Homo sapiens: one gene and its partner. The protein of the gene in region 1 purifies or fractionates together with the protein of each later gene. This does not show direct contact. Each region holds a gene or a part of one and is shown on either strand. Other genes may lie near its edges.

Region 1 (5,196 bases):
AAAAAAGAAAGGATATTTTCAAATGGAACTTACTTTTTAAGTGATGGAGACATGCACTTGGGGGTGGGTGGGTGTGAGTTTTCATTTGTGTTTTGAAATCCCAAATTAATGAGCATGATAAACTGTTATTGCTGGCACTGGCTTTACCCCAAGTGGCCAAGTGGCACTGTCTGACTCTCTGAGTCCTTGCTGGGTCCCCCCAACCTTCCCCTAACCCCCACCCTTTCCCTTTCCATTGACTTGGGACAGCCCTTGTCGATGTGCCAATCACAGTGGGAAGGGGGAGAAGGGGGGAGGTCACAGTGCATGGGGTTCAAGGTCACAGTGGGCGGAGCAAGGGGGATCACAGTGCAAGTAAGTCAGGTCGTTCCCTCTGCTCAAGTCCAGCTGTCTGCCACGGCAGTGCAACCCGTGGCGGACGACCCAGGAGGCGGTGACGGCAGCAACGGCGGCATCTTTTCTTGCCTGCATTTATCTGCGCTGTTTGAAGCCTTGAGACCCATCAGGACCCAAAGGCTGTCTGATCACATTATTGGGCTGCCTGCTGTCTTCGGGTTGGGAGATCCTGGTTGGCCTGAAAGGAAGAAAAGCAGAGGAAGGCCTGAAGAAGGATATAATAGATGTCCCCCATCATTTCTTTATTTTTTATTTATTTTTGAGACGGAGTCTCATTCTGTCACCTAGATTGGAGTGCAGTGGCACGATCTCCGCTCACTGCAACCCCCACCTCCTGAGTTCAAGTGATCCTCCTACCTCAGCCTACCGAGTAGCTGGGACTACAGGCATATGCTACCACACCCAGCTAATTTTTGTAATTTTAGTAGAGATGGGGTTTCACCATGTCGGCCAGGCTGGTCTTGAACTCCTGACCTCAAGTGATCCGTCCACCTCGGCCTCTCAAAGTACTGGGATTACTGCACCTGGCCTAGATGTCCCCCATCTTAAAATCAACTGTCCATATAGCTGGGCCCACGTCACTCTGGCTCCGCAAGCCTGCTTCTTTGGGAAGCTGACTCAGGGCACCTCCAAGTTGAGAGGCCCCTGTGAGCAGGCAGGGTCGGTGGTGCACATTCACCTCTAGCAGCTACAGCATCCTTTCCCCCTGCTCAGCTGCCATCATGCACTTGTAGGCAGGGGGAGTGCTTGAGGGCCCACTCTGCCCAGAGGCAGTGACCATGGATAGCACATGCTCCGCAGAACCATTTGGAATCTCCAGAGTGTTAGGCCAAAGTAAAGAACTGGAATCAAGAGCTCAGCAGAGGGACACATCCCCCGCCCCCCAATTCTTCCCTCCCACTCCTCTCCAAACTCTGCGGTTAACGGTTGACTCATATGACTATTTTTCCACCCTGGAAAGGTGAAGACTTAGAGGAGAAACAACAAAAAGAACAGGTATCTCTTCAAAATTATGAAGAGCTAGAAAGAAGGTACGCAGATTTTTTCTTCAAGTCCCAGAATACCAAACCATAGCAGCCCCTCAAAGTTAGAAGGAGGCCATCTTAATGAATACTGTTTGATTCGAAAGTGATAAACTTATATGATGCAACCTTTAATACTGCAGAGAAAAAAATGTTAAGAGTAAAAAGGAATTTAGAAAATTCACAAAAACATCACAGTGGGCATACTGGAGACCCAGAAAATATCATCAAAGCACTTATCTGGGGTACTTTCCACTCTGCCAGCCCAGGCTCTCCACATCCTATGCTCATTTACTCACTGAATTGCACAACACCTTGATAAGGTTGGTACTATTATTATCCCATTTTTTCAGATGAGAAAACTAAGGCCCAGAGAGGTCAAGTCGTTCTAAAGAAGAGGTAAGAGGCAGATTTTGACACAAGCTCATCTGTGCCTTCACTCTCTACACAACAGTGCCCCCGGTGACTACCAACCGCAGAGGGAGCATGCCAGCAAACTGCCACCTCCTCCCTGGCAAGGCTTTCAGAGCCCTCTCCAGCCAATGCGGCACAGTGAACTAGTGCCAGCAGGCTGGGATCAGCAAGTGGAGCTGCATGGTTCCTACCCTGACTCTGCTTGCTTCTCACTACTCTACACGCAGCCAGGATGCTCTCCTCTTCCCGGGTGGACTGGGACAGCCATCACTGGCCGGCCCTGCCAGCCACACTCACCTGTCGAGGATGGGTTTCTCCTGCTCCTCCTCGGGGCTGGCGCTGCCCAGGATCCGCTTCCGGGCCTCGGCGTACTCGGCCTCTCGCTGTGCTAGGGACTTGACTGGAAGGGTGGGCCTGCTGGTGGAGTTGGGGCTGCTGACCACACCGTTGCTGGTGGGCCTCTTGAGGATGCGGATCTGTGGAGGGGGCCCCGCGGGAAGGCTATCGTCCTGAATCACAATGGGCACTTTGGGAGGAGATTTGGATTTCCTGCTGACAAAGAGCAAACACAGCTTCACAAATCATGCTCCTGACTAAGGAGGCCCTGTCCATGTCCCACACCCACCTCTCATCACTTTCCTCTCCCTCCCTAATTCTACCCATGCATGATTCTCTGGCCTCTGACCAGACAGCAAAATTTCCACTCCTCAAGAAGGGTGTCCCAAAAAAGTAAGCTTGCGACCAGCTCTGACAGGCCACAGGAACTGCTCCTCAGCCCTAACCCCTGGCCACAGGGGCTGGAACGCCACCTCATTCTGGCACTTCTATCCCCATGTTCACCACAGCCACATCAACCACTATTTGGCCCTGCAGCAAAACAGTTTATGTCCAGAATTGAATGACGTCAGTTAAGATCCCAGCTTCTCTACGCAGATCAGAGTAGGACTGGCTGGTGGGGTGGGAGCCTTTGAACTTGGGGGTCAGCAGTGTTCACTCAGCCAAATCTTCCATCACATGCTCAAACCAGACAAACACTACAAAGGAGCCCACTACGCCATCCCTGCCTGGCATCAAGATTTACCAAGCCACCTTCTAGTGAGAGTGACCTGTGCCTCCCAGAGACAAGCTACACCAGACAACTGAATCCTCTTCAAAAAGCTTCTGAACAGAGAAACCTCCCTTGCCAGGGCTCCCTGGTCTTTTGGACAGCGGCGGGGCTGGAGTGAAGGATGCTCCTAGAAACAGTGCTTGGCAATGCTCAAAAGAAAAGCATTGTCCAAGGCTGGTGGACGCGTACATCAAGGCGATGTGTCCACAGGGAGAGGTGGAATGACAAAAAACAAAGAGGGACAACAACACAGGAAGGGAAAGAAACAAAAGCCACAGGAGGAGACAGGAACCCAGGCAGGAATGACCACCCGACAACAGCCACCAGGACCCTACCCAGAGCAGTCAACCAGCTTCTCTTCAGAACCAAACAAGCCTGCTTCCAGAGCCTTGGCTGTCAGGAGGAGTCGGGATTGGAGGAACTGAGCCAGGGTGGATGGAAACAAGTCTCGGGTAGGACACAAATGGTATGGAACGAGGACTGTAACCCAGGGTTAGCGTGGTTGCTGAGATGAGCAGACAGACAAGGAGCCAGCAATCTGATCAAAGAGGCAGGGAGCCAGGAAAACTAGCGGGCGGGCAGAGCACCCAGAGTTTCCTGGGGAATGACTGTGCAGCCCCGTGAGCAAATCCAGAGGGGCCCTATCCTCCTTCCTGTCCCTTGTACCTATGGAAAACCAACAGGTTCCCTAAGCCCAAAAGCAGAAAGCCGAAGTCAACTTTCACCTACTCTGGAAACACCCTCCTCTGTCGTCTAGGTGGAAAACAAAGCTATTTTTAAAGGTTTTTTCAAGAATTTCCTAGAATGTTTTCTTCCAGGATACCCTCATAATACCCTAGACCACCAAGTCACTGGGGACCCAGAGAAATCATCTGCCCACACTCCTCATGCCACAGAGAAAGAAACTGATGTCCAGATCTGGGAAATGACTTGCCCCAGACCTCAGAGCAACTGGGGCACTGCCAGGCCTAAAACTCAAGTCTTCCAACTTGTCACTTCCTCACATTGCATCAGATGACCTCACACAGGGAGCCCACGAAGGTCAGAGGCAGGTGCAACACCCCAGCCTCAACCCTAAAGCCTCAAGCCACCACGTCCTGGTCTCCAATTTGGAGGGAAGGGTTTGCTGCCCCAGAGCCTGACCTGCTAGGACCTGCTAATCCTAATGGCCAGCTGGAGAACACCACTGACTGCCCGGCTCTCAAACCACAGAGAGCATGAGCCCTCAGACCAGACAGCAGCCTTACCTCTCTTTTTGTGTGATCTTCAGTTTTTTTTCCAACCGTCTGTCTATTTCCTAGAGGAAAAAAATGTATATAAAAAGAGGAAAAAATCTCTCTCAAATAAAAACTTAGTCTTTATTTTTGGAGCTAAGGGCAGTGTCCTTTCTCTAGCCAGGGACATGACTGTGTCCTTCAACATAACAAATGTGGACTAGATTTTGGGGTTTGGGGACCTGATACCCTCTGCAGGTCCATCTCCCTTCTAGCCCCATGGCCGCCATGACAGTTCTAAACCTCATTGTTCAGCTGGGTTCTTTGCATAGCCTCCAACCAGTTTTCTGACCTGTAATCTGTCTTTCACAGAGCCACTCATATCAACTTCTAAACCTAAACTTAGGAACACTTACTCTATTTTATGAAATAAAGAGTTGGAAAAAAAATTAAACATAAATCTGATCATGTCACTTCCCTACTTTAAACCCTTCAACTGCTTGCAGACCTAGTCAAAGCTTCTGAGCATGCCTCACCCATACCTTCTTTTACCTTCTGTCTCTGTTTTGCTATCACTAGCCCCCAGAACTCAGCATGCTGTTCCACCTGCCTGCAATGTCCCCTCCCCTTGCAAACTCCCATTGATCCTGCACAACCCAGCCTGGATGTCTACCTCTCCTTTATAAAGTCTCCTCTGATCCCACCAGCATGGTGCATCACCTGGTCCTCAGAATAAACTCTCCCTTTTACATTCCTTTATGGTCATATCTAATATTTTAATAATGTATTTTTTACTGTTACGGACTTGAACTCTCTGTGACTGGCACCTACCGAAAGGCTTAGAGTAAAACCTATGCCTTATGTTTGTGGCTTTGGAGGTCCATGGTCTACAAGTGAACATGGGGAACCTGAGGAAGAGACAAGACACCTGAGAGTGCAGCAAGTATTTCTCTCAGAACCAGAGCCTGACAGGTCTTGATTAAAACAACACCACCATTTTAGAGAAAAGCAGAGAGAAGAAAGAGGCTGAGAAGGAGGAGCA
Region 2 (3,706 bases), about 21 Mb from region 1:
TAACTACAAATTCAGGGGTTCTGGGGTTTGATAATTTGCCAGAAGGACTCCCAGAACCCAGGAAAGTGCTGTGTTTACAATTAACGGTTTATGATAAAGGATGAAACTCAGTCACAGCCAGTGGAAGAGGTGCACAGGGTAAGGTATGGGGGAGAGGCACAGAGCTTCCATGCCCTCTCCACACATTGATGTGTTCAGCAACCCAGAGCTTTCCAAACCCCATCATGTAGGGGTTTTTATGGAGGTTTCATTACATAGACATGACTGATGAAATCTGTGGCAGTTGGTGATAGACTCAATTTCTGGTCTCCCTTCTCTCCTCTGAGTGGCTGAAAGCACCAACCATGTGGTCAAGTGCTTTGTCTTTCTGGTGACCAGCGCATCCCCCATCCTGAAGCTATCTAGGGGTCTACCATGAGTCACCACATTAGCATAAACTCAGGTGTGGTGGAAAGGGGCTTGTAATCAATAAAAAAGATACCCATCGCTTGGGAAATTCCAAGGGTCTTAGGAGCTCTGTGCCAGGAAGTGTGACATTTATATCACAGGGAGACAGTAGGCAGATAAACATATAATGTCAGGAAGTCTTGCGTGCTGTGAGGAAAACTAAACCAGGCTAAGGGGTTTGGGGGAGATGAGGAGTACTTTGGGGTGGTCGGGGAAGGCCTCTGAGGCAGTGGCACTTCAGCAGAGCCCTTAATATGAGACAGGAGCCATGCTAGTATCTAGGGAGAATGTTCCAGGCAAGGGGAACAGCACATCCAGAGCAGCTGGGGCAGGAGTATGCTCTGTGTGTCCTGATGCTGAAAGGAGGTCACTGTGGCTGGAATGTCGTGGGCCAGGAGAGGGTGTCATGGTGGGAAGCCATTGGAGGTTTTGAGTTAGCAGCTGGATTCTAGGGTCATTCTGGATGTCCGTATCACTGCTGTCTTGGGACCCTGTGTGGAAACACTGGCATTGTCTTCAGCCCTTCCTCCGTATGTAGTCAGTAAGTGTAGATAAGTAGTTCAGATAATTCTTAAGAACTATTGTAACCATAATAGATTTGTTGCCCAATGCACACAGCAAGTCAATATGCTGAGACACCACCAGGTTGCAGCAGAGAAAGAAGTTTAACCGTAGGGTCACCAAAGGAGGAGATGGGAGGAATCCTGAAATCATTTCCACGAGGAGTTTGGGGTTAGGGTTTTAAGGGTTTTGGAGTGGGCTGGAGTGAGGGTCATTGGTTGGGTGAAGAGTGCAGGGTGAAGTCACGGACAGGGAGATGAAGAAGCTGTGTTCTCATGCAGATCCCGTTTCTCTGGGGATCTTCAAACTGGTTGCTGGAATTAGGGATCTGAAAAGACATTTTAAGCAATCCTTAAACAAAAACCTTATGATTCTAATGTCAGAGATCTTGCCTATAGGAACAATGGGGGTGCATATCAATTCTTACATAGTCTTATGACCCAAATGTCAGAAATCCTATCTATAGGGACAGTGGGGATGCAAATGGTCAGTACCTAGTGTTCAGGAACTTTTAGCAACAAGGATATGGGCCAAAGTGCCCCCTAATTAGTGCTTAATTATAATTGTATTTCTGTCCAGAACTTGGCAGATACTTCTTGTCAACCCTTTGGAGGCAGTTTCACTCTCATATGCCTTACTCTGTGATTCTGTTTTTCTTTTTTGGTTAAGAGCAGAAACCCCTTCAGAAACTGAAAGCCAAAAATTGCCCTTCCTAGAAAAATGTATGTATAAATTTTGTGTGTGGTTTCCTGAATTTTATAGTTCTGTACTTATTTAGTGATTTGCCCGGCCACTCTTGACTTTAGAACATCACTTTTAAGTTCTCTGAGTTTTTGTTGCAAGGATAAAATGATATTATACATGTGAAACACCAGTAGAAAGCTTGGCACATACTTATCTTTGCGGTTACCTAAAACAGGCCAGTCATTTCAGGGTCCCCAGACTTAGTTCTCTAATGAACTCTCTTCAATCACAGAATTCCCCCTCCTTACCTTATACTCTTGCTTCAGGATGCCTCCTATCTTAGTCTGTTTTGTGATGATGCAACAGAATACTACAGATTGGGTAATTATAATGAACAGAAATTGTTTTGGCTCATGTTTCTGGAGGCTGGGAAGTCCAGTATCAAGGCACCAGCATCTGACAAGGGTCATCCCATCGTGGAAAGTGGGAGGACAAGAGCAAGCAAGAGAGGGTCAAACTTGCTTTTATAACAAACTCACTCTTTTTTTTTTTTTTTTTGAGACGGAGTCTTGCTCTGTTGCCCAGGCTGGAGTGCAGTGGCACGATCTCGGCTCATTGCAACCTCTGCTTCCTGGGTTCAAGTGATTCTCCTGCCTCAGCCTCCTGAGTAGCTGGGACTACAGGCATATGCCACCAGGCCCAGCTAATTTTTGTATTTTTAGTAGAGATGGGGTTTCACCATGTTGGCCAAGCTGGTCTTGAACTCCTGACCTTGTGATCTGCCCACCTTGGCCTCCCAAAGTGCTGGGATTACAGACGTGAGCCACCACATCCGGCCAACAGACTCACTCTTAAAAACGAACCCATCCCCGAGATCCATTAGTCCATTCATGGGGATGGAGCCCTCATGATCTAATTACCTCTTATTAGGCCTTACCTACCAACACTTGCTGCATTGGGGATTAAGTTTCTGTATCAGTCCATTTTCATACTGCTATGAAGAAATACATGAGACTGGTTAGTTTATAAAGAAAAAGAGGTTTAATGGACTCACAGTTCCACATGGCTGGGGAGGTTTCACAATCATGGCGGAAGGTGAAGGAGGAACAAAGGCATGTCTTACATGGCATCAGGCAAGAGTGTGTGTCCAGGGAAACTGCCCTTTATAAAACCATCAGCTCTCGTGAGACTTAATTCATCATAGGAGCGGCATGGGAAAGACCTGCCCCCATAATTCAATTACCTCCCACCCGGTCCTTCCCACAACACATGGGGATTATGGGAGCTACAAATCAAGATGAGATTTGGACACAGCCAAACCATACCAGTTTCCAACATATGAATTTTGGGGGACACATTTAAATCAGAGGACCTCCTCAAATGCCTCTCTTAGTACTGTTCTCATCTGTAACATCCAGCCTGGCCTTCATTTTTATGTAGTTGTGTGTGCTGATTTTGCATGTGCTTATATCAGCAGCCCCCTAGGGAAGGTCTAGGGAGCCTTGCTTTTCTATGATAAATCATTGGTTGGTTTTAATGGTTTAAATAGTCTTAGTTGGTTCATCCTGTGGAACTACACATGTATTCCTTTGATCCTAGTACTGATCTCTGGGCTTAATGTACATTGGTTTAAAAATACATTAATGAAATGACTCAAATTTGGGTGTTTTCAATACCTTCCCTTAGTCCTGAGAAGAGGACTGTTTAAGAGCAAGATATGAGTTCAGAAATTCCATTTTTCATTTTCTGATTCTATTTATTTCCCCCATTTCCACCCCTTAATAGCTTCTACCCTCCTCATCTTTGGAAGTTGTCCCAGAAGCAGCCCAGAACAATCCAGGGGAGGAAGTCACAGAAACTGCAGGTGAAGGGTCAGAATCCATCATTAAGGAAGAAACAGAAGAGAACAGTCACTGTGATGCTAACACAGAGATGCAGCAGATTCTCACACGAGTTCGGCAGAACTTTGGTAAAATCAACGTGGTGCCTCAGTTTTCTGGGGATGACCTGGTTC

The links. The genes of interacting proteins can lie anywhere in the genome.
Region 2: the proteins of SZRD1 (region 1) and GNL2 purify together in Homo sapiens (co-immunoprecipitation; one large-scale study listed by IntAct). This does not show direct contact.

Annotation. Positions count from the first base shown.
Region 1 is NC_000001.11:16,390,416-16,395,611, reverse strand, and holds part of SZRD1 (SUZ RNA-binding domain-containing), read right to left. Parts: intron 4,238-5,196; coding exon 4,188-4,237; intron 2,385-4,187; coding exon 2,130-2,384; intron 575-2,129; coding exon 472-574; 3' UTR 1-471.
Region 2 is NC_000001.11:37,569,074-37,572,779, reverse strand, and holds part of GNL2 (nucleolar GTP-binding protein 2), read left to right. Parts: intron 1-3,477; coding exon 3,478-3,706. UniProt on the Homo sapiens protein: GTPase that associates with pre-60S ribosomal subunits in the nucleolus and is required for their nuclear export and maturation.